Homo sapiens: one gene and its partners. The protein of the gene in region 6 purifies or fractionates together with the protein of the main gene of each other region. This does not show direct contact. Each region holds a gene or a part of one and is shown on either strand. Other genes may lie near its edges.

Evidence for each region.
Region 1: the proteins of GOT1 (region 6) and C11orf54 fractionate together in Homo sapiens (co-fractionation; one large-scale study listed by BioGRID). This does not show direct contact.
Region 2: the proteins of GOT1 (region 6) and RAB25 purify together in Homo sapiens (affinity purification with mass spectrometry; one large-scale study listed by BioGRID and IntAct). This does not show direct contact.
Region 3: the proteins of GOT1 (region 6) and EVPL purify together in Homo sapiens (affinity purification with mass spectrometry; one large-scale study listed by BioGRID and IntAct). This does not show direct contact.
Region 4: the proteins of GOT1 (region 6) and ENDOU purify together in Homo sapiens (affinity purification with mass spectrometry; one large-scale study listed by BioGRID and IntAct). This does not show direct contact.
Region 5: the proteins of GOT1 (region 6) and CRYBG1 purify together in Homo sapiens (affinity purification with mass spectrometry; one large-scale study listed by BioGRID and IntAct). This does not show direct contact.
Region 7: the proteins of GOT1 (region 6) and RBBP9 purify together in Homo sapiens (affinity purification with mass spectrometry; one large-scale study listed by BioGRID and IntAct). This does not show direct contact.

The regions. Positions count from the first base shown.
Region 1 is NC_000011.10:93,747,914-93,751,756, reverse strand, and holds part of C11orf54 (ester hydrolase C11orf54), read right to left. Parts: intron 1,412-3,843; coding exon 1,313-1,411; intron 1-1,312. UniProt on the Homo sapiens protein: Exhibits ester hydrolase activity on the substrate p-nitrophenyl acetate, in vitro. Regulates DNA damage and repair by regulating HIF1A degradation via chaperone-mediated autophagy (CMA).
Region 2 is NC_000001.11:156,059,816-156,063,959, reverse strand, and holds the start of RAB25 (ras-related protein Rab-25 precursor), read right to left. Parts: upstream 2,801-4,144; 5' UTR 2,560-2,800; coding exon 2,517-2,559; intron 1-2,516. UniProt on the Homo sapiens protein: The small GTPases Rab are key regulators of intracellular membrane trafficking, from the formation of transport vesicles to their fusion with membranes.
Region 3 is NC_000017.11:76,013,708-76,017,550, forward strand, and holds part of EVPL (envoplakin), read right to left. Parts: intron 1,922-3,843; coding exon 1,743-1,921; intron 1,659-1,742; coding exon 1,520-1,658; intron 1,403-1,519; coding exon 1,209-1,402; intron 870-1,208; coding exon 719-869; intron 1-718. UniProt on the Homo sapiens protein: Component of the cornified envelope of keratinocytes. May link the cornified envelope to desmosomes and intermediate filaments.
Region 4 is NC_000012.12:47,722,431-47,726,799, forward strand, and holds the start of ENDOU (uridylate-specific endoribonuclease isoform 1 precursor), read right to left. Parts: upstream 3,061-4,369; 5' UTR 2,984-3,060; coding exon 2,929-2,983; intron 1-2,928. UniProt on the Homo sapiens protein: Endoribonuclease that cleaves single-stranded RNAs at 5' of uridylates and releases a product with a 2',3'-cyclic phosphate at the 3'-end. The UU and GU sites are more efficiently cleaved than CU and AU sites. Targets mRNAs to regulate their expression.
Region 5 is NC_000006.12:106,566,473-106,569,715, reverse strand, and holds part of CRYBG1 (beta/gamma crystallin domain-containing protein 1), read right to left. Parts: intron 1,245-3,243; coding exon 1,150-1,244; 3' UTR 1-1,149. UniProt on the Homo sapiens protein: May function as suppressor of malignant melanoma. It may exert its effects through interactions with the cytoskeleton.
Region 6 is NC_000010.11:99,399,347-99,403,189, forward strand, and holds part of GOT1 (aspartate aminotransferase, cytoplasmic), read right to left. Parts: intron 3,377-3,843; coding exon 3,234-3,376; intron 1-3,233. UniProt on the Homo sapiens protein: Biosynthesis of L-glutamate from L-aspartate or L-cysteine. Important regulator of levels of glutamate, the major excitatory neurotransmitter of the vertebrate central nervous system. Acts as a scavenger of glutamate in brain neuroprotection.
Region 7 is NC_000020.11:18,494,417-18,498,814, forward strand, and holds the start of RBBP9 (serine hydrolase RBBP9), read right to left. Parts: upstream 2,810-4,398; 5' UTR 2,752-2,809; coding exon 2,653-2,751; intron 1,465-2,652; coding exon 1,422-1,464; intron 1-1,421.

The DNA of each region.
Region 1 (3,843 bases), on a different chromosome or scaffold from region 6:
ATTACTTAATTAGCAGGGGAAATACATTACACTCATATTTTTAAAAAAATCAAGGCTGGGCGTGGTGGCTCACGCCTGTAATCTCAGCACTTTGGAAGGCCGAGGTGGGCGGATCACGAGGTCAGGAGATCGAGACCATCCTGGCTAACACGGTGAAACCCTGTCTCTACTAAAAATACAAAAAATTAGCCAGGCGTGGTGGCACATGCCTGTAGTCTCAGCTACTCAGGAGGCTGAGGCTGGAGAATCGCTTGAACCTGGGAGGCAGAGGTTGCAGTGAGCTGAGATTGCGCCACTGAACTCCAGCCTGGTGACAGAGTGAGACTCTGTCTCAAAAAAAAAAAAAAAAAAAAAAAACTATAAAAAAGTACTATGCTAAATCCTTTGAAGAAGCTAAAAGAAATTGCCACATGGTACACAAGCCTTCTAGAATTTACAGCTCTACTTAAAATCAAAGATTGTTTAAGCTGTAAAGGCCCCCAAAAAACATTCAATTCAAATCCCCTCATGCTAATGTTATCTCAAAGTCAGGTTTGTTCTAAGACAGAACTAGAGTCCAGAATTTCTATGGCAAACTCCTTTTTAGCAAAGATGTTAATTACATAATAAAAAGAACACTTTGAGTGTTTATCCTCAAATTCCTCATCATAATAGGGTATAACAGGAGGGGGTTAGACTTTGGAAACAGACTTGCATTTGAATCCTGGTTATGATTTACACTGAGCTTATCTAGCCTCTCTCGTTTTCAGTTTTCTCATCTATAAACAAGGGCTACTACTTACCTTGTGGTGTTATTGTAAAAACTGAAACATCAACTAACTATCTATCATACTGACAAATTATTTTATTCTTCTAATACTAATTTCCCTTCCTTCTCACTTCAAACAGTGGATGCTCACTTGGCAAATTTGTTGAAGGATTAGTTTTAACAGATCATTCAAATACAAGGCTTTTAGGATCCCTTCTGGTCTTGAATAAATAAAATCATAAAAATTAAAATCAGTTTCCATAACAGTCTGAGCAATTAAAAGCAAAACTCTCGTGTGATACAAAGAATTCTAACCTATTGGATATCTATTCTACAATCTGTGAAGGTTACATAAGTGAATAAAACACAATCCTTTTCCACAAGAGTATGAAATGAAATTTAACCAATATCAGAAGAGTGAGCACAGAAATTTGGCACAATTTAGCCTAAATGTTGTGACAATATCCTTTATTTGTAGATAATTTAAGATGTCCTTAAAAATAATTCTAGTTTCAGAAAAAGATTATGACTAAAAAACAAAAGCTAATTGCAAAAATTGCTTACCTTTTACAGGAAAGGTAAAGGGTTCCTTAGTCAAATCAGGGCAATCAACTACAGAGACCTGGACATCAGCAAAGTTATCTTTTAACCCCTTCTGCATAACTAATAAAGACAAGGAATAAGATTATTTAACATTAGGTAAAAACTTGGCTACCACGTATCAAAAGTGGTATGTGGCTCTCAACACACTCCCAATCTCAACTTGTATAATAAAAAAGAAGGGGGAAATGGTCTTATTAATGAATATAATTAGACATTAGACATAATCACAAGATACAACGTAGACTAAGATATATAAATACTTCCTCTACAGTGATTTTCAACTGTTGAAGATAAACAGCCTGCACTTGTGTGAGGGTGAGGATTACCTTCTTTTTTGAGAGAAGATTCCAAAAACCAACTGAAATGCAAACATTTAAACTTTTTAAAAAGTAAGCAATCACATGTAACAACTTCAGTGAAGGTAACAGACAATATGTTGAACAAAGCAGCCAGACACAAAACACTACATACAATATTACTTCACCTTATGCATCTCAGAAACAGGCAATGGATCAAGGCTGACTGGGAAGGTGTGCAAAGGAGCCTTCTGGGATGTTGGAAATATTTTACATTTTGATCTGGATAGTAGTTACATAGGTGTAACTATTGTTAACATTCATCAAGCTGTACACTCAAGATTAGCATACTTTACTGTAGATAGTTATACCTCAGTAACAATGTAAAAAAGCATAGGTGTCTCAAAGTTATTAATGTAAGACCAATGTATTTCCCTCTCTCTTTTTTTCTTTTATATGTAGAGACCAGGTCTTGCTATATTGCCCAGGCTGGTCTCGAACTCCTGGACTCATGTGATCTTCCTGCCTTGGGTCCCCCAAAGTGCTGGGATTACAATGAGCCATCACACCTAGCCTCAACAGTTTTTTTTTTTTTTTTTTTTTTTGAGACAGAGTCTCACTCTGATAGCCTTACCTACCCTGTCGCCCAGACTGGAGTGCAGTGGTATGCAGCATGATCTTGGCTCACTCAGCCTTGATCTCCAGGCTCAAGTAATCCTCCCACCTCAAACTCCCCAGTAGCTGGGACTACAGGTGGATGCCACCATGATTGGCTAATTTTTGTATTTTCTGTAAAAATGGGGTTTTGGCTTGTTGCCCAGGTGGCTCTCAAACTCCTGGGCTTAAGAGATCTGCTCACCTTGGCCTCCCAAAATGCTGGAATTATAGGCATGAGCCACTGCATCAGCCTATGTACTTTTAAGGATCAAAAGTTCTTACAAAATGTCTTTTTTTTTTTTTTTTTTTGAGATGGAGTCTCACCCTGTCACCCAGGCTGGAGTACAATGGCGCAATCTCGGCTTACTGCAACCTCTGCTTCCCAGGTTCACGCCATTCTCCTGCCTCAGCCTCCCGAGTAGCTGGGGTTACAGGCGCCCGCCACCACACCCAGCTATTTTTTCTATTTTTAGTAGAGACAGGGTTTCACCATGTTGGCCAGGCTGGTCTTGAACTCCTGACCTCGTGATCTGCCTGCCTCAGCCTCCCAAAGTGCCGGGATTACAGGCATGAGCCACCGCACCTTGCCAATTTCTTTCTTTCTTTTTTTTTTTTTTGAGACTGAGTCTCGTGTTGTTGCCCAGGTCGAAGTACAGTGGCGCGATCTTGGCTCAACGTAACTTCTGCCTCCCAGGTTCAAGTGATTCTTGTAGCTCAGACTCCTGAATAGCGGGAATTACTGGCACACACCACCACACTCAGCTAATTTTTGTATTTTTAGTAGAGATGGGGTTTTGCCATGTTGGCCAGGCTGGTCTTGAACTCCTGACCTCAAGTGATCTGTCCACCTTGGCCTCCTAAAGTATTGAGATTACAGGCATGAGCCACTGTGCCAGGCCATAAAATTTCTACTTTTTCTGAATATATCCTGCACATATAGAAGGAAAATAGAAACAAACACAAAAGTGAAAACAGATTCTAGAAAAGCAATCAAAGAAAAAATCTGGCCAAGCATGGTGGCTCATGCCTGTAATCCCAACACTTTGGGTGGCCGAGGCAGGAGCATCGAGTGAGGCCAGGAGTTCAAGAGCATCCTGGGCAACAGAGCAAGATCCTATGTCTACAAAAAGAAAAAAGAAAAAGAAAAAATTCCTAACTGCCCTGTCATATTAGGGAAGACAGACTGATGAAAAAGAAATACAGGCCAAACAATACAGATTGTTTATTAGCTACCATTCAATTAGGGAAAAAAAAAAAGATTATAAGAGGAAAGTTACAACAAAGCAAAAATGAGTCTATTTCTTAACTTCAATCTTATCAGGATGACAAATGAACTACCAGAACATCACATTTTGAGAAACAAGCGAAGGTTCTATAGTTACCATTAGAACAGAACCTAGAGGTTGTTAAATAAAGGTTAGTATTCTGACAGACTTTACAGTTTTGGATAACAACTATTCCTGGCTTCATTTTTGTACTCGTTTTTGTTTTCCTTTTTTTGACTATCTTCCCTCCTAATTTATCTTGGGAAACTGCCTT
Region 2 (4,144 bases), on a different chromosome or scaffold from region 6:
GAGATACTAATGGTTCATGTTTACAGTGTACTGAATGCTTACTATGTGCCAGGCAGTGTCGTTAAAAGCTTTACACATATTACCTCATTTAATCCTCATAAGAATGCCATGAATCCCATTACTATTTTACCTGTTTTTACAGACAAGGCGCTTTGGAGGTCAAATGACTTGCCCAAGATAACAGGGCTAGTGTTGTAAACACAGAGATGTGCTGGCCAGATCAGCCTTCAAGGAAGGACTTGCCCCAAGCTGCAGGGAGTGCAGGCTGCAGACAGGCTCCAGCTGTCAGCTCCTTCAGCGTCTGCCTCTGGTGCAGACAGCGGCCTCACTGGAAGTCATGCCTTTTCTGGGCAGCCTACACCCAGTGCTCAAGCAAGGTGAGGCAATCACAGAGCTCCCCGCCCTTGACCCAGGTTTGTCCAGCCTGTGTTGCTGTTTGACTTCTCCCTCTGCCCAATTATGTTTCCTCTCCCTTCCTTTCACAGGTGCTGATTTGTAAAAAAACATTGAGCTGGGCGCGGTGGCTCACGCCTGTAATACCAGCACTTTGGGAGGCCTAGGAGGGCGGATCACAAGGTCAAGAGATCGAGACCATCCTAGCCAACATGATGAAACCCTGTCTCTACTAAAAATACAAAAATTAGCTGGGTGTGGTGGTGCACACCTGTAGTCCCAGCTACTCAGGAGGCTGAGGCAGGAGAATCGCTTGAACCCAGGAGGCGGAGGTTGTAGGAAGGCGGAGATTGCAGTGAGCCAAGATCGCTCCACTGCACTCCAGCCTGGGCAACAGAGCGAGACTCCGTCTCAAAAAACAAACAAACATTGAACACCCCAACTTCTTCTCAGCGTCTGCTTCTAGGGACCCCAACCCAACCCTCAATACTTTTTTTTTTTTTTTTTTTTTTTTAGACAGAGTCTTGCTCTGTTGCCCAGGCTGGAGTGCAGTGGCACAGTCTCGGCTTACTGCAACCTCTGCTTCCTGGGTTCAAGTGATTCTCCTGTCTCAGCCTCCCGAGTAGCTGGGATTACAGGCACGTGCCACCACACCCAGATAATTTTTGAATTTTTAGTAGAGACAGGGTTTCCCCATGTTGGCCAGGCTGGTCTGGAACTCCAGACCTTAAGTGATCCCGCCGCCTCGGCCTCCCAAAGTGCTAGGATTACAGGCGTGAGCCACTGCACCCGGCTGACCAACCCGCAATACTTGTAAGTGGCAGGGCTGAGATCTGAACCCAGTCTGGCTCCTGACCACAATGTTACACTGCCCCTCAAAATAAAATATGACTTTCGGGGATTGTTATGGTATTAATGAGGTAGTGGCAGGTACATAGTAAGTGCTCAATAAATGGTAGTTCCTCATATTATTGCCCCAGACTATTGCTAACCCTTTCCTTCCTGGAAAAGATGCCAGTAGTACAGGTTCCCCAGCTCAAGGGCGGGTTCTGGAGTGAGAGTCCCAGCTCAAGGGAGGGGCCGGGCTGAGGTTGGGAGAGGCATTGGGGTAGGGTGGCTGGAGAGTCCACCCTGCCCTAAAGGAAGTATGAAGGTGGGGTTGGAAAACAGCAAAGGCACCAAACACAGGGGCTAGAAAGATACATGCATGCTTCCAGGGACAGCAAAGTTGAGCCCAGTGCCTGGTATGCAGGTCCAGTGAGTCAGCCAAGGGCCAGGCAGACGAGGCTACAACCCTAGGAGTCCTCTGGATTCTATCAGACTCTGCAGCAAATTCATGATATTTTCTGTCTTCCCTATGTATTTATTGCCCCACCCTATAATGGGATGTGTCTCTCCTTTCTCTCGTTCCCTGTACACCTGCCCAGAAAAGATGACTTTCTTCCTCTTGTTTGCTGGTTTCCCTTTCTTCTCAAGAGAGAAGTCCTGGCCGGGTGTGGTGGCTCATGCCTGTAATCCCAGCACTTTGGGAGGCCGAGGTAGGCGGATCATGAGGTCAGTTCCAGACCATCCTGGCCAATATGGTGAAACCCCGTCTCTATTAAAAATACAAAAATAAGCCGGGCGTGGTGGCAGGTGCTTGTAGTCCCAGCTACTTGGGAGGCCGAGGCAGAAGAATCGCTTGAACCCAGGAGGTGGAGGTTGCAGTGAGCTGAGATTGTACCACTGCACTCCAGCCTGGGCGACAGAGCAAGACTCCGTCTCAGAAAAAAAAATAAAAGAGGGAAGTCCTTTCTGAAGTCTGACCTCCATCTCTTGTGCTGCACTGGCTGACACCAGGGATTTGGGTTTCTATTAGGAACGGGGCAGAGGAGCCTAACTCAGCACTCTTAAGGAGGAATCAACATCATTATTTACCACAGTAGAGCATACTCAGAAGCTCCCTGACTTTTGCCCCTGCAACCAGACCCTCCCCCACTCCCTGCAGCTTTCTTTCTGAAGGAATGAGGAGCCCCAGGAGGTCTTGGTAAGAGATAAAAAAACAGGAGGGGGCCCTCTCTGGCTCTATTCAATCTCTTTCTGGGTCTCTCAGGCTTCCTCTTGCTTCAGGGAACCCAACTCACCCTTGAAGACAAAGTTATAATCTTCCTCAGTTCCATTCCCCATCTTGGCTCCGCATGGAGGGTGCAGGTGTCTTCGGGGACAGAGGCGACAAATCTGTGTGTTGGCTCAATGCCCTCAACCCTCAGCTCTCAAAAGATCTGGTCCTGCCCCTCCTCTCATTGGGGGTAAGGGGACTTCTGCAGCCAGAGGGATTGGGGGCCAACTCAAGGTTAGGCAGGGCCTAGGGAGGATCAGCTCTGGCAGGTGGGGGTGCTGTAAGGAAGCAGAGAGGACGGAAGCTGAGAACAGGAAGAGCGGGGTGGCTGGAGACCTGGGGCCCAGGTGGGTGGAGAGATGATGACGTCAGACAGGTTCGACAGGTTGGGTGTCTGCTCTCAGCCTGGGCTCCCGCAAGCGGGAGAAGCAGCTCCAGCGGGGGGGAAGCGAAAAAGGGACAGGACCTTCAGAGACAGCCCACTGAGGGCTGAGTGTGCATTGCTGGGCTTCTGGAATCTGTGGTGAGGGCCGGTCCCCCAACTAATGAGCAAGAAATAGCCCCTCAGAAACCCACTTGAGGCCAGGCGCGGTGGCTCACGCCTGTAATCCCAGCACTTTGGGAGGCTGAGGTGGGCGGATCACCTGAGGTCGGGAGTTTGAGACCAGCCTGACCAACATGGAGAAACCCCGTTTCTACTAAAAAAATACAAAATTAGCTGGGCGTGGTGGCACATGGCTGTAAACCCAGCTACTTGGGAGGCTGAGACAGGAGAATCGCTTGAACCCAGGAGGCGGAGGTTGTGGTGAGTCGAGATCGCGCCCTTGCACTCCAGCCTGGGTAACAAGAGCGAAACTCCGTCTAAAAAAAAAAAAAAAAAAAATTAGCTGGGCATGGTGGTGGGCGCCTGCAATCCCAGCTACTTGGGCGGCCAAGGTAGGAGAATTGCTTGAAGCCGGGAGGCAGAGGTTCCAGTGGGCTGAGATCGTGCCACTGCACTCCAGTCTGGGCAACAGAGACTGCTTCTCAAAAAAAAAAAAAAAAGGCCGGGTGCGGTGGCTCATACCTGTAATTCCAGCACTTTGGGAGGCCGAGGCGGGCGGATCACAAGGTCAGGAGATCGAGACCATCCTGAAGGAATGAGGAGCCCCAGGAGGTCTTGGTAAGAGATAAAAAAACAGGAGGGGGCCCTCTCTGGCTCTATGGTAGAAACGGTGAAACTGTGTCTCTACTAAAAATACAAAAAATTAGCCAGGCGTAGTGGCAGGTGCCTGTAGTCCCAGCTACTCGGGAGACTGAGGCAGGAGAATGGCGTGAACCCAGGAGGCAGAGCTTGCAGTGAGCCGAGATCGCGCCACTGCACTCCAGCCTGGGCGACAGAGCAAGACTCCGTCTCAAAAAAAAAAAGAGGCCTGGTGCGGTGGCTCCCACCTGTAATCCCAGCACTTTAGGAGGCCGAGGCCAGCGGATCACGAGGTCAGGAGTTCAAGACCAGCCTTACCAACATGGTGAAACCCTGTCTCTACTAAAAATATACAAAAATTAGCTAGGCATGGTGTCACGCGCCTGTAATCCCAGCTACTCAGGAGGCTGAGGCAGGAGAATTGCTTGAACTCGGGAGGCGGAGATTGCAGTGAGCCAAGATTGTGCCAT
Region 3 (3,843 bases), on a different chromosome or scaffold from region 6:
CTCTCCGCTGGATTTCCACCCTGGCTCCTCGTGGGCCTCCGTGTCTTCATTCCCACCCTCTTAGTCATTCTCTACATGGCAGCCAGAGCCAGCTTCTAAACACTGGCCTGGAAGCATCCCCTCCCCAGCAGCTTCTGGGGGCTGCAGGAGAGAGTGCAGCCTGGGTCCTGTGCCGGAAGGGCCTGTGTGGTCTGCCCATCTGGTCGCCCTCGCCCCTGAGTCCCCCTCCTTTCCCCTGACTGCCATGCCTTCTGCATGGGACATTTCATCCCTCCCCCGGCTACACTTGCTTCCTCCCACACTACCGATCCTGACCCGCAAGTGTGTCCAGCCTGGGGGCACCCACAGCACTCCAGCTTCTCCCACCAATGCTTGTCGGCATCACAGACCTCCCCCACCAGGCTGGGAGCTGCCAGGGTGCAGGGTTGTACCCCAGTGAACACATTGCCTGGTACATGGCAGGGGCTTGATGAGCATGAGAAAGTGGCCGGAACCCTCAGGGCTCTGTGGCCTGAGCTTGTAAATCCCACTGCCCCAGTCGGGCCAGACAGAGATGGGCTGGCCCCGTCTGTGGGCAAAGAGGAGCATTTCAGCTGGAGGCCAGGGAAGGGGCCCAGGGCCTCCGTGGCCTGGGCTTTGAAGCCCCTTAGAGCGCTTCTGAGCTTTGGCCACTAGGGGGCCACATGGGCACAGGCAGCTGTCCCTGCCCCAGCCTCACCTTCTGCGCCTGCAGCTTGTAGGCGATCTGGCTGGGGCCGTCGCTGGGCCGCACCTGGCTGCGGGGCAGGTGCTCCAGCCAGGAGCTCAGGTTATCCTTGCAGTTCTTGAACTGCTGGTAGGTGAGGGCGGCATCCTGCACCACCTTCTCCCTGCAGGAGGACGAGGCCCAGAACAGAGATAAGACCTGCCCCGTGGGGACAGGGGCAGGTGCACAGGGAGGCTGATGGGAGCCTCCTCCTGGGGGCAGGTCAGGAGGCCCGAGTGGCCTGCTGTGCAGATCCCCACTCCCTGACCCTGGGAATTCAGAGATGGGACAGTCTCTACCAGGCACCACCCTGGGAGGTAAGTGCTGTTGTTATCCCATTTTAGAGATGAGGAAACAGCTTCAGAGACGTGAAGTCACTAGCCCAGGATCACACAGCTTGTAGACAGCAATGCCTGGCTCTGCACCAGCCCACACCCTGTGCCCCGAGGACCCAGTCGCTCACCGCAGGTCCAGCTGGTCCCCTACGGCGTGGTAGCGGTCGGTGAGGGCTCGCACCTGGCGCTGCTGGCGAGGCAGGTCTTGGCAGAACTCCTGGAAGTTGTTCTGCAGGGCAGCGCATGCGTGCTCCGAGGCCTTCAGCGCGCGGTGTAGCCGCAGCACGCAGGTCTGCTGTTCCAGCAGCTCCCTCCGCTGGCGCTGCAGGAGGAGGGGACGCAGCCGTGCACCCTCGTGGCTGGGGAGACGCCGTGTCCACCCACCCGCCCCTGAATGCTGGGTTCCCCTGACACCAGGAGGCCCCGGCTGGTCCCTTACCTGCAGCTCGCTGACCCTCTCCTGCAGAGCCCCCGGTTCAGCAGGGATGGGGGCCTCCTGCACCAGGGTGGCCTCGAAGCCTCGGATGACCCTGTCCGCATCCTGGATCTGCCGCTCCAGATCCAGGGCAGCCTTGGCTCTGCCGCAGAGGAGGCAAGGCTCAGACACTCCCTGGGCCACACGCTGCTGCCCTGCGTGGCTGCCCTGTCCCCAGAGCACTCACTTCTCCCCGTAGAGGCTGCACAGAACCTGCACGTCACTGAACTTGTTCTTCACGCTGTTGAGGGCTACGGGCAGCTGCAGGGCAGCGGGGCCCACGGGCCGCGTGGACAGAAACGCCTCGCACTCCTTCTGGGCTGTCTCCTTCTCCGTTCCCAGGCTCTGCAGGCGCTGGGCTGTGCCCTAAAGAGGGGCGGGGTCAGGGATCTCTGGGCAGGTGGGTTCCGCCCGACTCTTCTACCAGGATACCCTAACTCTGCGCCCATGGAGGCAGTAGAGTGTGGTGGGTACATGCTTGGGCTCAGGCCAGAGAACTGCGTTCAGTCCTGGCGCTACTCGTTCCTCTGTGGATGACCTGGGGCAGAGCAAACTGTCTGACCCTCAGTCTCCTCATCTACAAAATGACTGATAGGAGGGGCCGGGCGCAGTGGCTCACACCTGTAATCCTAGCACTTTGGGAGGCCAAGGCGGGTGGGTTGCTTGAGGTCAGGAGATCGAGACCAGCCTGGCCAACATGGCGAAACCCTGTCTCTACTAAAAATACAAAAATTAGCCGGCCGTAGCAGCGCGCACCTGCAATCCCAGCTACCCAGGAGGCTGAGGCAGGAGAATTGCTTGAACCCCAGGAGGTGGGGGTTGCAGCAAGCTGAGATCACACCGCTGCACTCCAGCCTGGCAGACAAGAGCAAGACTCCATCTCAAAAAAATAAAATAAATAAAAAAGAATGATTGATGGGAGGATGACACAAGAGCCTGTGTCCTGAGCTCAGCAGTGAGCGCCAGGCACAGTTACCTACAGTCATCTTCATGTCACTGTCCTGCTCACAAGACCATCAGGTCCCCTGGCCCTGTCGCTCCAGCCAAAGCCCTGGCTCTGCCCACTAGGGACTGTTGCCCTCATTCTTTCATCAGTTATTCACTCATCTGCCTGGTCCATCACCGAGCAGTGCTGACTCTGCACCAGGCACCACCCACCGCCCAGTCTAACTGGGCTTCTCCTGGACCCCAACACCGCTGATGTGGCAGATGCTATGACTTCAAAACCTAAGGACCCAGCTTCTTGGGAGGTGAAGACAGGGGGATTGTTTGAGACCAGGAGGTTGAGGCTACAGTGAGCCTTGATCATGCCACTGGCCCTCCAGCCTGGGCAACAAAGCAAGACCCCGTCTCAAAATAATAATAATATGGCCAAGTGCAGTAGCTCATGCCTGTAATCCTAGCACTTTGGGAGGCCAATGCGGGAGGATCGCTTGAGCTCAGGAGTTTGAGACCAGCCTGGGCAACATGGCAAAACCCCATCTCTACCAAAAAAATTAGCTGGGCTCAGTGTTGTACCTGTGGTCCCAACTACTCGGGAGGCTGAGGTGGGAGGATCACTCAAGCCTGGGAGGTGGAGGTTGCAGTGAGCTGAGATTATACCATTGCACACCACTGCACTCCAGCCTGGGTGACAAAGTGAGACCCCATCTCATAAAACAAAAAACAGACCAGGTGCGGTGGCTCACGCCTGTAATCCCAGCACTCTGGGAGGCCGAGATGGGTGGATCACTTAAGGTCAGGAGTTCGACATCAGCCTGGCCAACATGGTGAAACCCCATCTCTACTAAAAATACAAAAATTAGTTGGGCATGGTGGTGTGTGCCTGTAATCCCAGCTACTCCGGAGGTTGAGGCAGGAGAATTGCTTGAACCTGGGAGGCAGAAGTTGCAGTGAGCCAAGATCGTGCCACTGCACTCCAGCCTGGGTGATGCAGAGAGACTTTGTCTCAAGAAAAGAAAAGAAACTGGTTTGGAAGGATAACCCAGACTGCGGCCCGGTGTGGGTTTCACTCTGAGCACTTTTGGGAGTGTTGAGTCCACGTGCTGTTCTTGGGTAAGGAGTTTACACAATGCTGCAACCTCCCCAGGTAGGCTCCCCCTTGCAGCCAGGGGACATCTCTTCCTAAGATTCTCCAGGCTTCCTTGCTATTTCAGGAGCTTCACCAGAATACCTCCTGGGGTGTTGACATTGGGCCCTACTGGAACCTTCCTGAATGATCAGGCGAGCTGGGCATTATTACATCTGCTTCAGGGATGAGGAAACCAAGGCCCAGAGAGTTATGTAGT
Region 4 (4,369 bases), on a different chromosome or scaffold from region 6:
TGATAATGGAGCCTATCTCATAGAATATTTGTAAGAATTAAATGAGTTAATATATGTAAAGCACTTAGGACAGCAAGTGACACATAGTAGTACCATAGAAGTATTTGTTAGGTGAATAAACGGTGGCAATATTTCATGCCCATCTTCCAAGTGACAAGTGTTCAGACTGGCTGGAGCAGTCTTCCCTGTGTTGTGGCCCCGTCGACACACTTAATCTAGCTGACACTCTCCCAGGGTTTCAACAGGGCCATCCCTTGGGCTGGGTTGTCAGCACATCTGTGTTGCTGGTTTCCTGGCTGACTTCATCACTACAGGTCTGTATTCTTTACATCAGAGAGGCATTGGGTCAAGGTTAACCCGGGTCCTCAGACAACTTCACATTGTCAGGCCTCCAAGGTGGGCAGGAAGGCAGGTTTCCAGTCCCTAAAAGAGACCAGGCCCAAGGCCACTTGTTCCTTCAAGCCGGCAGGAACTCCTCTTGAATGTTAAATGATGCTCCCTTGGAGCCTGAATGCAAAGACCTTAAGGAGAAATTTTCAGCCCATCAGCTCCCTGCTCAGTCAGCCTGGCAGTACACCCAGAATCCAAAGGGAGAGAATTCAGGCAAATCAGGGCAATGTTTTTAATGGGCCAAATCAGCAGAGTCCAGGGAAAGAATTCACTTCATTCCAGCAGCTGGCACCAGTTGAGAAGGGTTGCAAGCGAGCAGTCAGCTGGACGTGCAGGAGAGCACCCCCGCCGGCCCAAGCTGAGTGGGCTTTTTCATCTCTGCTCAAGAACTTTGTCTCCAGCAAGAGCCCCATGCCAGCACTTTCTCACATTTCTCTGTGCACTTAGTCTGCTTCAAGGTGACCTTGGGATTTGACAGTGGAGTGCAGGGGTGGGAGGAACTTTTCCTCATAGGCACTTTGCTGTGACATTCTGGGGACACTCTGATGAGTAACTAGTCACCCTAACAACTCACTCCAGCATCCCCACACTGCACCATTAACACCAACACTCTGAGTAAGCCTTGCTCCCCAAGCCAGGTGCCTGAATCACTGCTGTAGTAACCTGTGCCTCTTGTTCCTCTGCCTCACCTCTCTGACTCTCTGCCTTTCTTCATCTGAGCCTTTCCTCTCTCGGGTTCAGATTCTCCCTCCATTCCCCCAAGAAATGCTCAATTTCTCTGCACTTTCTAAGACTTCAATATGCCAGAACAGCCACTCCCTATCCATACTGGCCATCAAGGAAGCTTGGTCCCAAGCCTGGGTGGACACAGTGTCCCTGTACACTGGTGCTCAGCCCCTCTGATGACTGGGACATCCTACACATCTGTACCGTTAGAAGGCCCCAGATGCTGTTTCCATGGAGACCTAGTCAACCAAGAAGCCTCACCCCTTGGACTAGCTTCCTGCCTCCATTCACAACCAAAAAAATCAACCAAGGTTCTCCACAGACATCCAGCTCATAAAGGAGGACCTGAGGCTGTCAGTGATTCCCCATGTGATTCATATTCTTGCCTCTCAGTTCTGAGATGTTGGGATAGTATCAACAAGTGCAGAGCCTCTTCCCTGCCACCTTAGGAAGCCTCATACACTTGACCTCACTTCCCCATCGATCCCACAGCCAAAGCAGATACTGCCCTCCGACCTAGCAGCAAGAGCTCCACCTGCACTTCTAAAGCCACTGCTACCTCTGCCCCCCAGGGACCAAATATCCAGAGTTGCTCTCCTTCCCTAAGGCTGGAATATGCCAAGCCCGCTGGCCACCCCTACACATTAAGCCCCCAAGTTCCACCTTCCTCCCAACCAACAGGGCTGAGGCTGGTGGCTCCCAGGCCCACCCTCATGCTCTCCCACTGCCTCTCCACCCACTAGGGCCCAGGCAGAGCTGGTTTCTGGTAAGATGCACTATCTCATCCATGGTTGGGAGGCACAACTTCCTCTTCCAGGGGTTTTCCACTTAGAAATCCCATAAGGGTCTCCTTTCCACAACCCAGTTGGAAATGACCCCAAGCGGAAGTTTCTCCCAAGAAAATTTATAGTCATAATCATAGCGAATTTCCAGTTCACTGAGATCTCACTTTGCACCAGGTGCTTCTCATACATTATTTCATTTAATCCTTTCCACAGTCCTACACAGGAGCAACCCAGTGGAAGGATTCTTTCTCCTGTGGGCAGAGGAGGATTCTCCCCACACTCCTCAGCTCAGCCCCTCCCTTGGCACTCCTTCCCACCCACCCACTAGCTACCAATTAACCCATCAGCACCAGCATTTTGCACAGTTACTAAACAGGAACATGGTCCTGTTCCTCTGCCAGTCCCATCCCCTGGACCTCTCATAACTGTGGGCCAGGTCCCTTCTGTATTCTTCAATTCTCCTAACACTGCAACAGAGATCCATTCCTCTGACCCCTGTACAGCCCCAGATAGGACGAGGCCCACCTCCTGGTCAAAGGTCCTTTCAGTTTCCTCCTAAGCCTGCCCACCTCCTAAGGCTCTACCCAAAGTAACATCACACCCTAAACAACCTCACCTGTCACCAGGCAGTGGAAGGAGTGACCAAGGGCAGCCAGGCCACTCAGACCCCATGGACACCAGCCCTAGCTTTATTCCTTACAGTGGCCCCAGACAACAAAATCTTGGGGAGATCAAAAGTCAGGCTGGACTAAGGGATATTTGGGGCTGATCCTCCAAGGTGTCAAGAAGGGAATTCCATGAAATCAGACCATCAGCCCTGCAACTCTCTCCACATAGTCCAGTCCATTCCGGGACCAACGCCTGCACCCTCAGACAAGGACAACCCAAAAGTGCTCTGCGGCTTTAGGACAGAGCTCACCCTCCCTTGTCCCACGGCCCTGCCCTCTACCAAGTTCTCCAACTCTCTGCTTCTTTAGGCAAGATCCCGCCCCACCAGCAATCCCATGCCCGCCAGATAGTGACTTACCAGCCCAGGCCAGGCCACACAGCACGGCCAATACCAGGGAGATGCAGGCCCTCATGGTGCCCAGTTGGAGGCCAAAAAGGGAGTGGCTGTTGGACTTTCACTAGAGTCAGATGAATGTCACAGCTCTCAGACGAGCCTTATTCCTCAAGCTGATCCTTTTAAAGACACCAGGACTTGTGGAGCTGGTGTCTCCAGATCCTTTCAGGAAGAAAAAGGGGAGGGAGGGACCCTAGATGGATAGGAGGTGGGGCCCTACAGCTGTTTGAAGCCTGAGGGAAGGTGACTAAGAAGGTAGGTAATGCCAGATGTTGAGAACAGGTAATGCTAGCTGTTTGCAGCTTAAAAAATAGGTCATGCAGGCAGGCACACCAAGATGGGTCCAGTTTGGAGGGTTCTTTGTCCAAATTAGGGACACCCATGGGCTGATCTTTGGGTGATCCCCACCAAACAGACACCTACTTCCAAGTCTCAGACCTGACTTTCCAAGGGGCCACAGGTTGGATTCATCTTCAAATTCCTGGAGCTTAGCATGACACTGGCACACAGTAAGGTGATTGGTCCAAATTTGACAAACAGTAAGTGCCCAAGCAAGGGTTGGGGTCATTGGACAGAGAGATAGAGGATGTGTCGGTCAGAACCAGTGCTATTCTTATGACCACCAAGCCCAGCATAGCTAAATCAGCCACATGTCGAGCGCATGGCTAAATCACTCTAAAATATTATGCAAATGACTCTTACTGAGTCAGCCTCTGGGGTTTAAACGTTTCAGATTCCTTATGAGGCAGGGGAGGGGCAAGAGGCCTCTTAAAGGCAGCCGAAGGCCCACTCTTCTTCCCCTGGGAGCCCAGGGTTTCACTCCCTTCACCCCAACTTACACTCCTCTCCTCAGGAACTCCTCCCCAGTGAGGTTCTTTTGTTTCCAAGTCCAAAAGAAGGGGAGCAGCTCCCCGTGACTGTCCAGTTTTCCCCGATAATAAAGGTAAAATCTGCCAAGTATGATGCCCTTGCCAGAAAGAGCACTGCATGGGGATTCTCAACCCTCTCAGGAAAGAAAACTATCATATAAAAAGGCAAAATTGGTGAACAGTGGAGGCCACTCTATCAGTGATTTTTTTCTGGAGGTTGGGAGTGGAGCACGTCTTCATCCAGTGTGCTTTAACAGGAGAAGTTTCTTCCTCTCGCTGGTCTTCAGCTTTCTCATCTGAAATGATGGGGTTGGATCTGACAATCCCTTCCAGGTTCTCAGACTTTAATCTCGAGTTTTCCTGCCCATGCGCCAGGTTGAACAGTTGCTGGTGGGTTAAAGAGAATCCCCCAGCCTGTTGCTGTGTAGAGAGGAGTCCAAACATAGGGACTCAGGGGTAGAGAGAAGGACAAGCCTAGGGCAAGCAAACTTTGCAAGGGGCTCACACAGGAAGTGCAATGTATGTATATATTTTGA
Region 5 (3,243 bases), on a different chromosome or scaffold from region 6:
AGAAATTAGGCTAAAAAATCTGAGTTTAGCAAAAAAGTATGTAACATTGCTTCAGCACTTGTAGATGAGTAAGGATGGCTCATAAATTAGGTCATAATAGTGTTCCAGTAGCAGCTATAAGAAAGGCATTAAACAACCCTCATTTGTGACATTCTAGGGCAGCCCATGGATGAGTTAAAATAATTCAAATCCTGGCTGGGCGCAGTGGCTCAGGCCTGTAATCCCAGCATTTTGGGAGGCCGAGGCGAGTGAATTGCTTGAGCCCAGAGGTTCGAGATCAGCCTGGGCAACGTGATGAAACCCCATCTCTACAAAAAAAAAACAAAATTTGGCTGGGCTTGGTGATGTGTGCCTATAGTCCCAGCTACTTGGGAGGCTGAGGTGGGAGGATCACCTGAGCCTGGGGAGGTAGAGGCTGCAGTGAGCCGTGATTGTGCCACTGCACTCCAGCCTGAGATCCTGTCTCAAAAAATAATAACTCAAATCCTACTAACAAATGTTACCAGACTTTGACATTAAATTTTTAAAATGTATTAATTTTTAATATGAACTAAAGGAAAATAGTATTTTGTTTAGAGTTCCTTAAATGTGTGAATACCTAAGGCTTTCCCATTGTGCTATGCAGCATATTTAAAGGTTCCAGAAAGTGTTTAAGGCCAAGAACCAAAATTACAGGCCTAATAAAGTATTTCTTCTCAGATGCTAAACAGTTCTCTACCTTTCAAACTTAAGCCTTTGTCTTACCCTTTAAAGTGTAAGGGCTTTGTAGGTCCACAAAGTTGGTAAATTTGTTCCAGTTCTCTCCTGTCACTATCTTTGGAAATAATTTAAAATGTACACAGTCTTGAAATCTTGATATAACATTTTACAAAATCACCCAAAAGCTGCTAATTAGGCAACCTGTTTAAGCAGCTACCAAAAATGAAAGGCAAGAAATGAAAGGAGGACAAATTATTGGTTTAAAGCTATGATAGTCTTTTGAAACGATGAGTAAGTTCTCTGAGTCATGGCAGCATGATTTAAGGTTGAATTTAGAATCAATGAAGGAGGAGTCGATCCACTTTCCAGTCTGGTCTTCCATCAGCATTGTCCTTTTTAAGAAATAAGGTGGCTGGAAGGACCTCCAGAAGATTCTTCTTCCTTCTTTGTTCAGGTATATAGGACCATGGCTTCCCACACTTGTGTAAACTTCTCTTTGCTGACAGTGTTGAGGATAATGTGATTTTGATCATACTGTGTGCCCCCTAAAAGAAAGGAAAATAATAAAAGATGAATGTACCCATGGTGAAGGGTCTATAGCAGACACAATTCCCCTAACACCAGTACAGCAAAAGTAAGCAAGTAAACAAGGTGTAGAACTGCATGCCTCAAGGAGGCAAGGCAGGGAGGGAAGCCTGGGCCCCTGTGGGATGAGAGGGTCAACCTGCCATGGGTGAATCTGTCCAGATCCCACCATTGGGGCACCAGCACCTTCACACAGGACATCCCACCTCACGGGCTCCTTTTTCTACCCAGTTCTTAAGAGCTAGTCCACAGTCACTCTTACAATGTCTGAAATTCAAGGGAACTGGGAAAACCCGAGAGAAGGGAAAAGGAGTAAAGAGACTAACATATATTTGGTGGTGAGATGGTAGATTCGAGACACCAGCGAGGAAAGAGCAGGTAGTCCTGGCAGTGGTGGAAAGGTGGGAGGAATGGTTATCGAGGAACAGCACTTGCATGAACAATGAAAACGGGCTGTATTAGGTCAAAGGGGAGGTTTGGATGACACCCGGAAGTACATAAGGGGACGCGGTAGCATTGTCACTACTGGGGACTCAGTTGGTGGATAAAATTTCATAGCATTTAGGATGCTGAGTACCACAGTATTGTAAAACTATTATCATGAACTCTCTCCCTGTTACCAGAATGTTTGTAAGATTTTCCAAAGGTGCTTACTGGATGTTTCAGATACTTTAGTGCTAAAAACAGCCTCATGGCTTCTTTCTTTGGAGAAGTATCATTAACAAAAGGGTTATCTGATTTTTTTTTTTCCAGTGTAGAATAAAGATCCCTTCAGATGGCTTATCCTTTTTTTAGCATAAACCTCAGCACCAAGGATGTATCAACAAAGACCCCATCAAAGTAAAAATCTGTGCATTTTGATGCAGGGAGTGACTGGTATTGAAAGCATGCTTCCTCCTTGGATCAAGAAGAAATAAACATTCTTTTCACCTTTGAAGCATTTACAAAATATGAAAAAGGTTTGGGAATTTACACAATAAATCTAGGTATTATAGTTGAGGAAGGAAATCGTCTCTTCTCTTGTGAGACACTGATTTATCATCATTGGTAATCTACAGCCTCTACACAGCTAGATGTATGGCTAGATGTACTATAGAATACAAGGGTAAGGTGTTTTGGGCCTTTATGTGTAAGTTTGTAGCAGTAGGGAAAAAACTACCAGCAAACCCTACACTCTGCCGAGACAGAGACACACAGCATACTCCACTGAAATTTCAGGAAGTATTAAAGTCACAATGTCTCTTTTCATTCTTCATTATAGTATGTTAAAATACTTTTTGTATTTTAAGAGTATCTTTTGTATTTTAAAAGTAAAGTATCTTAAAATACTTTCATATAAATTCAACTAGAATCATGAAAACTAGAAAGTTCTTGAGAAATAATTTGATTCATTCTCTTGCCTTTGGAGAGTGTTTAAATTGTGCAGACTTCATGTTTTTTAAAGTGAACATGAATCAGCTTCCACTGTTGTTACAAGGTATGTGGTCTGGAATAATACATGAATGTCTACCAAAAGAACTCATTTCCCAAACACAAGAAGATGAGCTAGAAGACAGATGCATGATCTAATAATTCTTAGGGCAATTTTAATAGATAACAAATGGTTCAGTAGTTGTAGCTAATGGAAATCATGGTCTGCTAGTAAGTGCACCAACGAGAAGAGACGTGTTTATATTTTCCTTTGCATGGGGTGTGGGACGTGCGGCGCTGCTCTCTCATGTCCACAAGATGGCACCATTCTCCCAGTCTGAGAAAATTAAATTCAGTTTAACAAGGAATTAAAACTGTTGTAGCTAGCCGGGCGTGGTGGCAGGCACCTGTAATCCCAGCTACTCAGGAGGCTAAGGCAGGAGAATTGCTTGAACCCAGGAGGCGGAGGTTGCAGTGAGCCGAGATCGTGTCATTGCACTCCAGCCTGGACGACAGAGTGAGACTCCGTCTCAAAAAAAAAAAAAAAAA
Region 6 (3,843 bases):
TGCCTGCCATAATCTGTTCTGGCAAGCTCCAAGCTCCCATTCTTTCTATAACCCCAAGATGGTATAAAAGCATCAATCATCTGGCCATTTATTTGAGTTCTATTTTGTAAGACACCTGTGCAAGTTAATAAATTTGCATGCTGGCCAGGCACAGTGGCTCATGCCTGTAATCCAAGTACTTTGGGAGGCTGAGGAGGGAGGATTGCTTGAGCCCAGGAGTTGACGACCAGCCTGGGCATCATAAGGAGACCCTGTCTCTACAAAAAAATCTTAAAAATTAGCCGGGCATGGTGGCACACACCTGTGGTCCCAGGTACTACGAAGGCTGAGGTGGGTGGATTGCTTGGGCCTGGGAGGTTGAGGCTACAGTAAGCCATGATTGTGACGCCGCACTCCAGCCTGGGCAACAGAGTGAGACTCTGACTCAAAAATAAATAAATAAATTTGTATGCCTTTTCTCCTATTAATCTGCCTCTTGTCAGCTGATTTCCAGCAAACTTTCAGAGGGCAAAGGGTAAGTTTTCCCTTGACCCCTCCAAACCAGTGAACAAAGAAAGCAAGCTTAAGAAGAGGTTTACCTGTGTGAATTGGTCACCCAAGGGGATAGAGCCTCAAGCCAACACAGCCCTGGGTGTGCCACTCTTTCTAAAAGCCTGTGCCCTGAGGCAGTGATTAAATGACTCCTACCCTGGCTTTTGGTTTTGTTTTAGTAAAAATGAGGCCTTTCTACTTTTTCAGAGAAGGGAAGTGTCACAGTTTGAAAAGCTAGTAAAAGTTATGGACTCTTTCCCTAGAGCAGGGCCAAAATACACATATACAATTTTTTAAACATCATTTCAGGGGCTTCACAGTTCTCCTAAACGTACATCCAGGGATTCCAGGTTAAAAGCCCCATTCTGACAGAAAAAAGATAACAAAGGAAGTATTGTAATGTGAGAATTGTAGAAACTAGGTGGCGGATATATAGGGGTTCACTGTACAATTCCTCCAACTTTTCTGTATGTTTAAAACTTTTCTGGCCAGGTGCAGTGGCTCATGCCTGTAATCCCAGCACCTTGGGAGACCGAGGCGGGCAGATCACTTGAGCTCAGGAGTTTGAGACCAGCCTGAGCAATATGGTGAGACCCCGTTTCTACAAAAAATTAGCCGGGCATGGTGGTTCACGCCTGTGGTCCCAGCCACTTGGACACTGAGGTGGAATGATCACCTGAGCCCAGGGGGCAGAAGTTGCAGTGGCCCGAGATTGCACCGCTGTACTCCACCCTGGGTGACAGAGCGAGACCGTGTCTGAAACAAACAAACAAACAAAAAAGGCCAGGCACAGTGGCTCACGCCTGTAATCCCAGCACTGTGGGAGGCCAAGGCAGGTAGATCACTTAAGGTCAGGAGTTTGAGACCAGCCTGGTCAACATGGTGAAACCCTGTCTCTACTAAAAATACAAAAATTAGCTGGGTGTGGTGGCTCATGCCTGTAGTCCCAGCTACTTGAGAGGCTGAGGCAGGAGAATCGCTTGAATCCAGGAGGTGGAGGTTGCAGTGAGCCAAGATTGTGCCACTGCACTCCAGCCTGAGCAACAGAGCAAGACTCTGTCTCAAAAAGAAAAAAAAAGTTGGGAGGAAAACAAAACCCCTGTTTTTAATAAGGGCAAATGATGCCAAGCGCTAAAAATATAACTTTTGTGTTATAAGCACAGTTCTATTCTCATCATTTTTCCAATTCGTGATATTAATAAAACTAATTTCCTCCTGTGGATAATGGGAAGATATGGATATTTTACAGGGAGACATTCCCATATTGTGAGCTTTTAGACTATTACTACTAAAGACTATTAATATTTCTGTTACATGTAATATTTTTATAATTGTGAGTGAACTAATTCTCTGTTCCTCAGTCAAGAGGACATCTACAGCTAACTGAGCTATTTCTTTACTTTCTTAGGTAGCTTCATTTTACCCCAAAGTATTTTGAGGGGTCCACAATACAAGCTCTATTAACTGCCATTTATATTTATTTCCTTTGGATTTTTCTGAGCCCACTTCACACTGGCACTGTGATGGCCCCAGTTAAATACCTCCCCACGGCCTCTGCCGTTCTGCCTACAAACCAAGCCAGCCACACATCCCTCCCTAGAGTCACTGGGACACACAGGTGAGTCGCCACATCTGCACTGTGGGAATTACTAAAGAAATGACGCCTGTAATCTCAGCTACTCGGGAGGCTGAGGCAGGAGAATAACCTGAAGCCGGGAGGCGGAGGTTGCAGTGAGTCGAGATCACACCACTGCACTCCAGCCTGGGCAACAGAGCAAGACTCCATCTCAAAAAAAAAAAGAAGAAATGACTCTTCTGTCATCAGATGGGACTGCAGATGGCAGATGTGCCCTACTGACAATTGACCAAGACCATGCATGACCACCTACTAGATTTTCAATCAGCTTTTAATTCCAACCACCAATCTAGGTTCTTTTCTTTTTTTTTTGAGACGGAGTCTCGCTCTGTCGCCCAGGCTGGAGTGCAGTGGTGCGGTCTCGACTCACTGCAAGCTCTGCCTCCTGGATTCAAGTGATTCTCCTGCCTCAGTCTCCCTAGTAGCTGGGACTACAGGCGCCTGCCACCACGCCCGGCTAATTTTTTTGTATTTTTAATAGACACGGGGTTTCACCATGTTAGCCAGGATGGTCTTGATCTCCTGATCTCGTGATCTGCCCACCTCAGCCTCCCAAAGTGTTGGGATTACAGGTGTGAGCCACTGTGCCCAGCCCAATCTAGGTTCTTGTTTATGAAATGCAGAGATAACTTTGTAATCTCTTTTTGAGGATAATACCTAGAAATAAGAAAGACCTGTCAAGAAATCAGTTCCCTGAATAATCATTATATTCAGGATTAAGGCAAACCCAAAATGTACCTGAGCATTTATAAGAACCTTTCATAAATTAAGGCTCCCAGCTACCAATCCTGTTACCTCCCAGCTGGCTCTGAGCCACTTCCCAGCCCACAAACACGGAAATATCTTGGCTGTGGGTCAGCAGGGCAGACCACAATACTCTTCTGAGACCCAGAGAGTTTATGAGATGGTGGGACACCCTAAGAAAACCTAACTTGTCCTGGTCCAAAGCAATGGCTGCCCAATTAGGCAAAGGCTGTGAAAGTGAGCTCAGCTCAAGGCGAGCGACTGAAAGGAATGTTGTGTGTCTACATGCACGCATGGGCTGGAGGTGGTGGGGGCCACTTACGGTTCAACCCAGTGAAGCTGAACATGCCAATTTGATCAGTGATGTGGTTCCAGGTCCCAGGGGTTTTGAGGGCTTCTAGTCGTGCCCTGAGTTCAGATCTCATGGTCAGAATCCGGTCAGCCATTGTCTTCACATTACCTGTCCTGAAGCATGGACAGTGACGTAAATACCAATCCAGACAGGAAAGATGGTACCCGAAAACACACAGGTTTAAAAACTCTAATTTAAACGACAGCTGACAATGGGATCATAACCTGCCTATTATGGCATGTGGATGTCTGGATGGGTGGATTAACATACCAGAGAGAGAGACTTAGGGGGCAGAAGGAAAGGACTGCATTTACTAGTGAGTCTAGTGCTAGTCTTGGGTATACTGGCTAGAATACACTCACATTTCAACTCAGGCTTCACCGAGGTGCTGCTATAGATATTAATAGGGCAATATGTTTCATCAGGACTTACTAAATAAAGATTGCAGATTTAGCTACTATATAAAAATTACTGTTCTAAAATAAGATAAAGTGTATGTAAATTACAGATAAAAACCAAGAGCTCCCAAACTGTTAAACTGCCTAGACGTTCGATATTCTATTTTGCTGGGAATACCTTC
Region 7 (4,398 bases), on a different chromosome or scaffold from region 6:
ACCTATAATCCCAACACTTTGGGAGGCTGAGGTGGACAGATCATTTGAGGTCAGGAGTTCGAGACCAGCCTGCCCAAATGCTGAAACCCCGTCTCTGCTAAAAATACAAAAAAAATTAGCCAGGCGTGATGGCGCATGCCTGTAATCCCAGCTACTTGGGAGGCTGACACAGGAGAATCACTTGAACCCAGGAGGCAGAGGTTGCAGTGAGCCAACATCACGCCACAGCACTCTGGCCTGGGCAACAGAGCGAGACTCCATCTCAAAAAAAAAAGCAAAAAAACTCTTGCAACATTCTAAAATTCACATTTATTCATTCTTTCCAAAAAGGGGATTCCTGAGACAAGTCATAGGCATACCCAGAACAAAAGTAGCAATATGACATTTTTAAACATTAGGACCTCAAATAGATGCTGTAAAGTTTTATACCTATGCCTCAAGTATAGTACCCACAAATTCTGCCTGAAAATATTTGTAGACATATAGAAGGGAAAAATCAAGTTGGTGCAAAGTTGAAAATTAAATTTTACCATGCCCAGGTGCTTTCCTAATCCTTACTAGAATTTTCTATGGCTTACCCCATCCGGGAGGTGAGGGGCGCCTCTGCCCGGCCGCCCCTACTGGGAAGTGAGGAGCCCCTCTGTCCGGCCACCACCCCGTCTGGGAGGTGTACCCAACAGCTCATTGAGAACGGGCCATGATGACAATGGCAGTTTTGTGGAATAGAAAGGGGGGAAAGGTGGGGAAAAGATTGAGAAATCGGATGGTTGCCGTGTCTGTGTAGAAAGAGGTAGACATGGGAGACTTTTCATTTTGTTCTGTACTAAGAAAAATTCTTCTGCCTTGGGATCCTGTTGATCTGTGACCTTACCCCCAACCCTGTGCTCTCTGAAACATGTGCTGTGTCCACTCAGGGTTAAATGGATTAAGGGCGGTGCAAGATGTGCTTTGTTAAACAGATGCTTGAAGGCAGCATGCTCGTTAAGAGTCATCACCACTCCCTAATCTCAAGTACCCAGGGACGCAAACACTGCGGAAGGCCGCAGGGTCCTCTGCCTAGGAAAACCAGAGACCGTTGTTCACTTGTTTATCTGCTGACCTTCCCTCCACTATTGTCCTGTGACCCTGCCAAATCCCCCTCTGCGAGAAACACCCAAGAATGATCAATAAATAAATAAATAAATAAATAAATAAATAAATAAATAAAAATGACAAATTCACAGAATTGAAAAAAAAAAAAAAAAAAGAATTTTCTATGGCTTTTGGTTCACACCCTCCTCCCCAAGCTGCTTGCCTTATTCTTTCTTAGGTATATAGGCATCTTTGGTTCCTCCACTATGATATTCTTGTTCTCTACCACAAAAATGGTAATATCAAAACCCAACAAGATGAGGCTATTTAAAAACAAGTTTAAAACTTACTTGGGTCGGGCATGTTTTTAGCCAAACACTGGAAACCAGGTATCTATGATATGAGGGGGGAGAAAAAGCTATAATAAAGAGCTTAATTACAACTAATACTTTGCTAATAAGAAATGAGGCACCTGATATGATCGTTACCAATTCAGTATTAACTTGTGTTATGAAATGAAGTAGGTTAAGTGACCATCTTTTCGCATGAACTCCATCTGTAGTTCTGTATCTAGGCAGCTCTGCTGATCTCTATAGAGAGACCTATATCTGCATTTGTACACCCATATTTGCCTCTACAGGCCTGCATCTATAGAGAGGCATGAACAAATGTGTTCTAGACAGACTGACCTGGAGCCAAATAGACTGTGTTCCAGGGAGTAGGTAAAACGTGGCACAGGAACGTGATACAGAAATTTGGAGACAGCATACTCTCAGAAGCTCCAGCCCTGACCTTTGGGGTTGTAACTCTGACCAGGGTTTTCAGCCACAGCGCTGCAATCTATTCTGGAGACCCGCTCTAGAGGACAGCAACCCAGGGAGCCGACTTACCGCCTGGTTACAGAAGAGGGTTAAAAAATAAAAATCAAACGGCACAGGTCAGCCTACAGTAAGATGCCACTTTTATAAAGCTCACCAAGAAGCCAAATAGAACAGTCTGTTGTTTAAAAGGTATATTCATAGGTTGAAAAGTACTTCAATTTTAAAAAGAGAAGCAGATGAAAAAATTCAGGATGGCACGGGACTGAGATGGGTAGACATAAGGGTCGTTTGGAAGATGATGTATAGGCAATGTCCCAGGTTTTAGTTTGGTAATTCATTACATTATGCCTCATAATGTAGACGCATGTTACGTATATCCTTTGTATATATTAAGTATAGCATATTTAATTTTTTAAAAGCTGAAGCGGGAAGCAGTGAACATGTAAAATTATCTGGGAAGTCCCAAATCTGAACCAGCAGCAGATACGGGGGGCGGGGCTCAGGGGCTCAGCCTCGGTAGTTCAAAGGGGTTCCTTTAACTCTAAAGGCTGAGCCCTCAGAGAAGTCTTCCAGGCAGTTTTACCAGTCAAAATTCGACCACTAGCTCAGACTTTAAGAGAAGGCAGCGGGGGAGAGGCAGGAAAACACACAGGGCTTTGCTAGAGGGGATTAGACGCCTATTCAAACTTCAGCCCTCAGTCCTCTCCCGCCGTCCCTCCCTCCAGGCTGACTTCACGGAGCAGCGGCGTTGGGCGCTTACCTTCTCCAGCTCCTTTTTCACCCAGCCATACCAGCCGTGGGTGGTCACATCCCCGCCTCCGTTCCCGGGAACAATCACTGCCTTGCTAGGAGAAGCCATGAGTGCAGCGAGGCCAGAGTTCCCCAGCGCGGGTCCAGCGGAGCTGAGCCCAGCCTGCTCCCGCAGGGAGCCTGCGCCGCGGCATCCTGGGAGTTGTAGTTGCGGGGACCTGGGAGGCCGGGCTCTTTCCTCCTTGGCCTGCCTTCCGCTGGCTGCGTGGGGCAGCCAAGAACAAAGCCTGCGAGCTTCCATCAATTGTAAAGCAAAGCACCCTTTACTTGCCTCTTACTAGTGCTCTCATGTTTTTCCCTTATTTAAGACAGGCTATGACACGGTTGGGGTGTGTTATTTCTTTGCTAGATTTACTGATATTTCTATAGGAAAGTTTGTTTTTGGTTTCAAACATGCAGAAAACCCATTTATAACCTGGGAACGCCTGAAATCCATATTATTTTTCCTTCTGAGTTTAAAACAGTTTTTAGTAGTCAGTATCAGCCCTGGTTGTTGTTTTTCATTGCTTTGAATGAAATTTCCTTGCATAAAGCTACTAACCCAAGTAAAACAAGCAAAAATTTAATTAAATACCAAGAAAATACTTCGTCAGATTTTCATATTAAACCAGCTGATACTGAAATTGTTTAAAATAGTTTATAACCAATGCTTAGTCCCATATTCCTGGGAAGACAAACAAAGCTTCATGTACATTTGGTCACCGGGTGGGCCATTTAAACATTTTGTAAGGGGATTTCATTCAATTGTTATTTGAATTCCAATTTGTCATTCTGGTTGTATAAAAGCTTTCCCATGCAAGAGGGCTGATGTTATAACAGTAGATTATTATGCTACAGTGTATTTTCCCCCGGTAAAGAAAGCTTTTTATGGTTTGAATTTTCTGGAAACATTGGAGAAGACTGTCCTTGTCATCCACACTACAACAAAACTTCAGGACCTTGGGCTTTGGGTTCATGGTCTCGCAAATGAGAACGGTCCCTCCACACTTTTGGAACAGTGCACCCATTGGAACTTTTGAGGTAAAGCTACCCTGGGAAATTTCTCCCAAGAAGAAAATGGCATCCTTGATGTGAACAGCTTTTCCCAAGTTCACAGATTAAGACTTCTACTACCATGAAACTCTTATCTTTCAATATTTTTTGTCTTCCTTATGCCTCTACAAACAATAGAAGTGGAAAAGGGGTCTGTTATGTGCACTTATGGGGTATACTTTTATTTGTGAAGGAGTTTGCAGCCAGCCTTATACATGGATAAACTTAGACTTTGATAGATAAAAGATGAAGGCCCGAAGTAGGTAAGAAACTTTAATGGTACATGCATTGCTTCATAATCAGTCAAAAACAAAACATTGGTTCACTCCTCTAACCCACATCATGGGTTAAAGAAAACATTGCCAGTAGGCCTTCACTCTTCTAGAAAGGCATCATTTGTTAGGTCCTTTTACCATGGTTTGAAGTAAAAGAAGCAATGATTAGAAATGTATCCCTCATTGGCTGGGCGCGGTGGCTTACACCTGTAATCCCAGCACTTTAGGAGTCCGAGGCAGGCAGATCACCTGAGGTCAGGAGTTCAAGATCAGCCTGGCCAACATGGCAAAACCCCATCTCTACTAAAAATACAAAAATTAGCTAGGCGTGGTGGCAGGTGCCTGTAATCGCAGCTACTCAGGAAGCTGAGGCAAGAGAATTGCTTGAA